Regions from separate parts of the Homo sapiens genome. Here region 2 is linked to region 1. Evidence: fine-mapped expression QTL. A gene starts in region 1. The other region holds a variant in brackets. All regions are shown on one strand. Distances are between the middles of the regions.

What was found. PIP is the estimated chance that this variant, and not a neighbour inherited with it, causes the effect.
Region 2: its variant is the best candidate, but not a certain one, in a credible set for the expression of ADCY5 in tibial artery (GTEx, PIP 0.59).

Annotation. Positions count from the first base shown.
Region 1 is chr3:123,447,550-123,450,382 of GRCh38, reverse strand. ADCY5 (adenylate cyclase 5) reads left to right here and starts at 1,293. Exons shown (of 21, transcript NM_183357.3): 1 at 1,293-2,833. The coding sequence starts at 1,838. RefSeq lists an enhancer at 2,232-2,833.
Region 2 is chr3:123,390,623-123,393,518 of GRCh38, reverse strand. All of the region lies in intron 1 of ADCY5 (adenylate cyclase 5), which reads left to right. Among named protein-coding and RNA genes, the nearest start is that of ADCY5, 57 kb to the left of the region's middle. The variant G/C (reference allele first, on the strand shown) is at 1,785.

The sequences.
Region 1 (2,833 bases):
CAGAAGTCCTGTTTCTGCATCTCCCCTGTCCATTTCCGGGTCTGGCTCTCCGGCCCCTGAGACCCCTCCAGGGACTCTGTTCTCCTTCTCCTTGAGGCACTCGCTGCCCAGGCGCCCCCCACCCGGTGCGCCCTCCTTTGGCACAGCCGCCGGGCCAGAGAATCGCCCAATAAGAGCGCCGGACTGTAGTCTGACAGCTCCGGAAGCGGCCAATCGAGCCGGGCCAGGGAAGGGGGGCGCAGCGCCGGGGCTGAAGTTGGGTTAAATGGGGGGAGGGGGATTAAAGGGGGATACAAAAGAGGGGAGCTAGGACTGGGGGCGCTGGAGCCCTGGCCGGGGGCGGGGGAAGACCGCGCTCCACCCAGGTCTGGTGACGGGACCGCAGGCTGGATGCGGCTCCTAGTCCCAGGGAGGGAGGGGCGCAGCGAGAATTTTAGGTGAGGAAGGGGAACTGGGGTGCCCGCGGCCAGGCCTGAGGATGCCCGCGGGGCGCCGAGGCTGGGGCCATGGCCAGGCCGGGGGCGGAGGCGGCCTCGCGCGGCTGTGAGCCGAGGCCCGGGCGGCGCGGGGGGCGGGGAGGCAGCGGGAGGAGGGGATGCGGAGGGCTCTCCGGCGGCGGCGAGCGGGCGAGAAGGGAGGAGCGGCGCGAGCGGCCGGAGCGGCGCAGGGCCCGAAGCGTGCATGGCGCGCCCTGAGCCGGGCTCCCGCGGGCCCCCCCGGAGCGCCTCTCGGGCGCCGCGGCTCTCAGGCGGGCCCCTCTGGGCCGGCTGCTTCTGAGCCCCGGCGCTGGATCTCTGGATGCCTTACTCCCCGGGAGAAGCCTGCCTGCGTCGGGGCAGAACCGCGGCAGCGCTGCGCCGGATTCCGTCCTCCGCCTAGTCGTTCCGCGCCGGCCGCGGTGGGCCCGCAGCCGGCGACGAGGAGCTTGGGGCTTGCGAAGCGGGCGCGACAGCTCTCCGGGCCGGCAGGTCCCGGCCGGCCCCGCTCCGTTTGCGGGAAAGGGAGAGGCGAGAGGGGAAGGGCCGCACCGCAGGAGCCGGTCCCTGACCCGGACCCCGCCCCCTGCGCGGACGCGCCGAAGGCTCGGCTCGGCTTTCGCCGGGGCCACGCATCCACTCTCGCCGCGAGAGGTGGGGGATGCGGGCAACGGCCCCCCCGGGCTCCAGGACCCTCCCCCCCGGGGCTCCGGAGCTGTTGCTCCGCCCGTCGCCCCCTCCCCCGTCCTCTCCACCTCCCATCCCACCTCCCCACCCCTCGTAAGAAAATAATGCTGGCTGGCGCCCGCACCTCCCAGTCGCTCCCAGTCCGCTGCGAGGAAAGCGCACCCGCAGTGTCTCTTCGCCGGGACCCCCGCCGAGCCGCCCTCGCCGCCGCCGAGCCCCGAGAGCAGCTGGGCTCCGCTTAGGCGGAATCAGCGAGCGCCGCGCCCGGGCACTGCCGGCCCGAGGAGGCACCGCCCGCAAGGACACCACTCCGTCCCGTCTCGTCCGCAACTCCGGCCCTCGTCGAGCTCGACGCGAGCCAGGATCCCGGACGTCTCTCCGCGTGCGGCGCAGCAGCAGCCAGACCAGTCCCTGCGACCCCACCTCGGAGGCAACTCCATTTCGGACCTGGGACTTCTGACGCGGATCCTCAGCTACTTCTCACCTCGGGGCTGTGCCCTCCTCCTCCGCTCAGGACGGGGGTGCCAAGATGCCCCGCTGCAGCGCAGGGCCCCGGGCCGCCCCCGACGTGTGACCCTAGCCTGGTCCCCCTGCTCGGCCGTCCGCCCTCCCCTTGGAGACCCCCGGCCCGGCTTCCGGGGGAGGAGGAAGGAGACGACGAGGCCGAGGGGGGGATGTCCGGCTCCAAAAGCGTGAGCCCCCCGGGCTACGCGGCGCAGAAGACTGCGGCGCCGGCGCCCCGGGGAGGCCCCGAACACCGCTCTGCGTGGGGCGAGGCCGATTCCCGCGCGAATGGCTACCCCCATGCCCCCGGGGGCTCTGCCCGCGGCTCCACCAAGAAACCCGGGGGGGCGGTGACCCCGCAGCAGCAGCAGCGCCTGGCCAGCCGCTGGCGCAGCGACGACGACGACGATCCTCCGCTGAGCGGTGACGACCCCCTGGCCGGGGGCTTCGGCTTCAGCTTCCGCTCCAAGTCCGCCTGGCAGGAGCGCGGCGGCGACGACTGCGGTCGCGGCAGCCGCCGGCAGCGGCGGGGCGCGGCCAGCGGGGGCAGCACCCGGGCGCCCCCTGCGGGCGGCGGCGGCGGCTCGGCGGCGGCGGCTGCCTCGGCGGGCGGGACGGAGGTGCGCCCTCGCTCGGTGGAGGTGGGTCTGGAGGAGCGGCGGGGCAAGGGGCGCGCGGCCGACGAGCTGGAGGCCGGCGCCGTCGAGGGCGGCGAGGGGTCCGGGGATGGCGGCAGCTCGGCGGACTCGGGCTCGGGCGCGGGGCCCGGCGCGGTGCTGTCCCTGGGCGCCTGCTGCCTGGCGTTGCTGCAGATATTCCGCTCCAAGAAGTTCCCGTCGGACAAACTGGAGCGGCTGTACCAGCGCTACTTCTTCCGCCTGAACCAGAGCAGCCTCACCATGCTCATGGCCGTGCTGGTGCTCGTGTGCCTGGTCATGTTGGCCTTCCACGCGGCGCGGCCCCCGCTCCAGCTGCCCTACCTGGCCGTGCTGGCGGCCGCCGTCGGCGTGATCCTCATCATGGCTGTGCTTTGCAACCGCGCCGCCTTCCACCAGGACCACATGGGCCTGGCCTGCTATGCGCTCATCGCCGTGGTGCTGGCCGTCCAGGTGGTGGGCCTGCTGCTGCCGCAGCCACGCAGCGCCTCTGAGGGCATCTGGTGGACC
Region 2 (2,896 bases), 57 kb after region 1:
GTGGCACAGTCATAGCTTACTGTGGCCTCAAACTCCTGGGCTCAAGTGATCCTGTTGGTTCAGCCTCCCTGGTAACTAAGGCTACAGGCATTACCCCACCCTGCCCACCTAATTTTTAGAATTTTTTTTTATGGAATCAGAGTCTTGCTCTGTTGCTCAGGCTGGTTTTGAACTCCTGTCCTTGTGTAATCCTCCCACTTCTGCCTCCCAAAGTGCTGGGATTACAGGCAGGAGCCACTGCACCCGGCCAACACCCTCATTTTATTGATGAGGACACAGGGATTCCAAGAAGGTTTAATGAACCCAAGGCTGCAGAGTTCTGAGTGAGAGGGCTTGAACCAAGGCCTGCCTCACTCTCGACCCCGGGCTCTTTTGTATCACTGGGGGAAGACTGTTGGTACAGTGTGTGTCGGGGCAGCAGGTGGCAGGAACATGGGCCTCTGTGCCTGCCTCACCTGTTGCCTTGTTTGTGGTCTGATTACAGGGACTGAAATTCCCAGTCTTCCTAGCATGTGCCATTGTCTCAGCTCAGTGCATTTAGAGTCACTGGGGGTGGTAGAGACCCCCTTCTGATCATAAAGCCACAGACACCACTTGAACAATCTGGAAAGTTAAGAAAGTGGTGGCCTCCTGTGGATGCTGTATTCTCCTGCCACAAAAAAAAGTGACTGTCCTATGTGGGAGGATGAATAAGGGGCACCATTAGAGTCTTTAGTGAGGCCTGGAGGTATAGCGTGCAAGAGAGGGAGGTGGTGGTGGAGGGAGAGAGAGAGAGGGAGAGGGAGACAGAGAGGCAGAGACTGAGAAAGAGACAGAAAGTTGGAGAAAGAGAGACATGCAGAGAGAAAGAAAGATACAGAGAAGGGGAGTAACACTGTCTGCCTGGGGACCGAGGGCCTGGATTCAGACTCCAGCTTTGTCACCACTCATCGGCTGACTGGCCTTAGGCAAGCTTTGTGCCCTCTGGCCTTGGTCAGCTGACCTTTTGATGAGAGCTGGGGATGGTCTCTGTGCCTCTCTAAGTCTGCGGTTTATGATAACCCCGTGGATCACTGCCTAACCTGTGCTGCCTGCAGACCGAGCCCATCTAAGCCCTTCCTCAGACTTTCTGAACCCCAGGCAGGTTTGTAGCCTTCCAGGAGCTCCCAGAACTTACATCTTAAGTGTCTCTAGGGGAAGAAAAAAACTTGCTCACATTCATAGCCCTGTTTCTGTGATCATAAAGCCATAGACACCACTTGAACAATCTGGAAAGTTAAAAAAGTATAAAGGAGAAAGGATAAAATCCCCCTTAATTCTATCACATTTTGCTATTTCTTTCTAGAAATCATTTAAAACAAATTAGTATAACGGAGGCTATACTGTTGTGTAACTTGCTTCCCCCACTCCTGCCACAACAGTAGTGGATTTTTCTTAATTACATAAAGTAAATTAAGACAAATGCTTTAGATGTGAGGAGGAGGCGCTCGTCCAGAGCAGGCAGGCTTTCAGCAGCTGCTGACTCTGCCCCTACTGCCAGAGTCCCAGTGTGATGGGGGTGCTTTGAGGGCCCCAGGACACTCTGGTGGGACTGTGGGTACCCCTGGGACGGAGATGAAGTTGCTGGACAGACAAGCTGGGAGCTTGGTGGAGGAGAGCTGGTTGTAGATCCACCGGCCACCCCAGGCGAACTGTTAGCCGGTGGGACTATAGCATAAGGTCCTGTACCTGCAGGGCAGTCATTCAGATGTGGCCCACTTGTGAATGGCACCCCCTGGAGTTGTGCAAGTGGAGGTTAGACTAAA[G/C]TTGCAGGGCCTGCCTGTGTTACTACTCTGACCTAACAGGAACCCCAGGCCCTGGAAAAGCTAAGCCCATTGCTTGGGGTGAGGATGAGAATATTTTGGTAATATTTCTGTACTGTGGCATTTAGACCTTGGGAAGGGGTGATGGTGGAGGCTGGACTGGAACAAGGCAACTGGAGACAGCCCAGGCAGTGTCCTTGACTGGGTGTCCTCCTGGGAAGGACGTCTCCATTGGCCGCCCTCAGTCTTCAGCCCCAGGGTGTCTCCCTCCTTCTGGGTGGGAAGTCATAATAGTAATTTATAGCTTCTCTTTCCCAAGAGGTGATCTTTCACTCTGTTTTGTCCAAGCTGCACTTGCCGTCCCCTGCACAGCCCTCAAGGACATCTGGAAGTGTTTAGACAGTCTGTGGTCATCAGGCTGGAAAGGGGGGGTTTGGCCAGGTTTTGTGGCCTGAAAGCCTCAGGAGTGGCACGTGCTTTGAAATCCTCAGAATGTAGCTCCCTTTCCTTACCCCAGACCCACACACTTTTGCTTCCTTTCCCTTCCGTCTCCTCCCCTCCCACCCGCCTAGAGGTATCAGCATGCCCTGTATATCCTTAGAGCTTCCAGGAACCCCTGGTCAGTCTGTTTGGGCAGCTGGTCCTCATGTGCAGGTGTGCTGGGCGGCCCCCAAGCCCCTGGAGGGGCAGATGGGAAGTGTGCTGGCCTCTGCCCAAGGCTGGGTCAGCACGGTGTCCTTGTAGTGTTTGGCTTCTGGTTTTCCAAAGTCAGCTTTAGGCACCTTATTCCAGGGAAGAGGGAGGCCTTGAAATGTCCATCTCACATCCCACGTGTCTCTCTTTATAGCGTGCCAGTTGCAGGTTGACTGGCAATGTGAGAGCAGACCTCAGAGATGAACCCTCGGGGATGCAGACCTCAGCCTGCTGTCCTGAGTGGGCAAAGGTGAGAAGGAGCTGAGTCCATTCCCAGGATGGGACTGGGTGGCCTAGCCTCAGGCTGTGCTGCACCTGCAGCCTTGATGGCCCAGGATCACCATGGGATTATGAGGAAGGTTCTTCACTCACATCTGCCACGCCCCAGGGGAGGCCAAGCCCAGCCCTCTGTCTTTACTCCA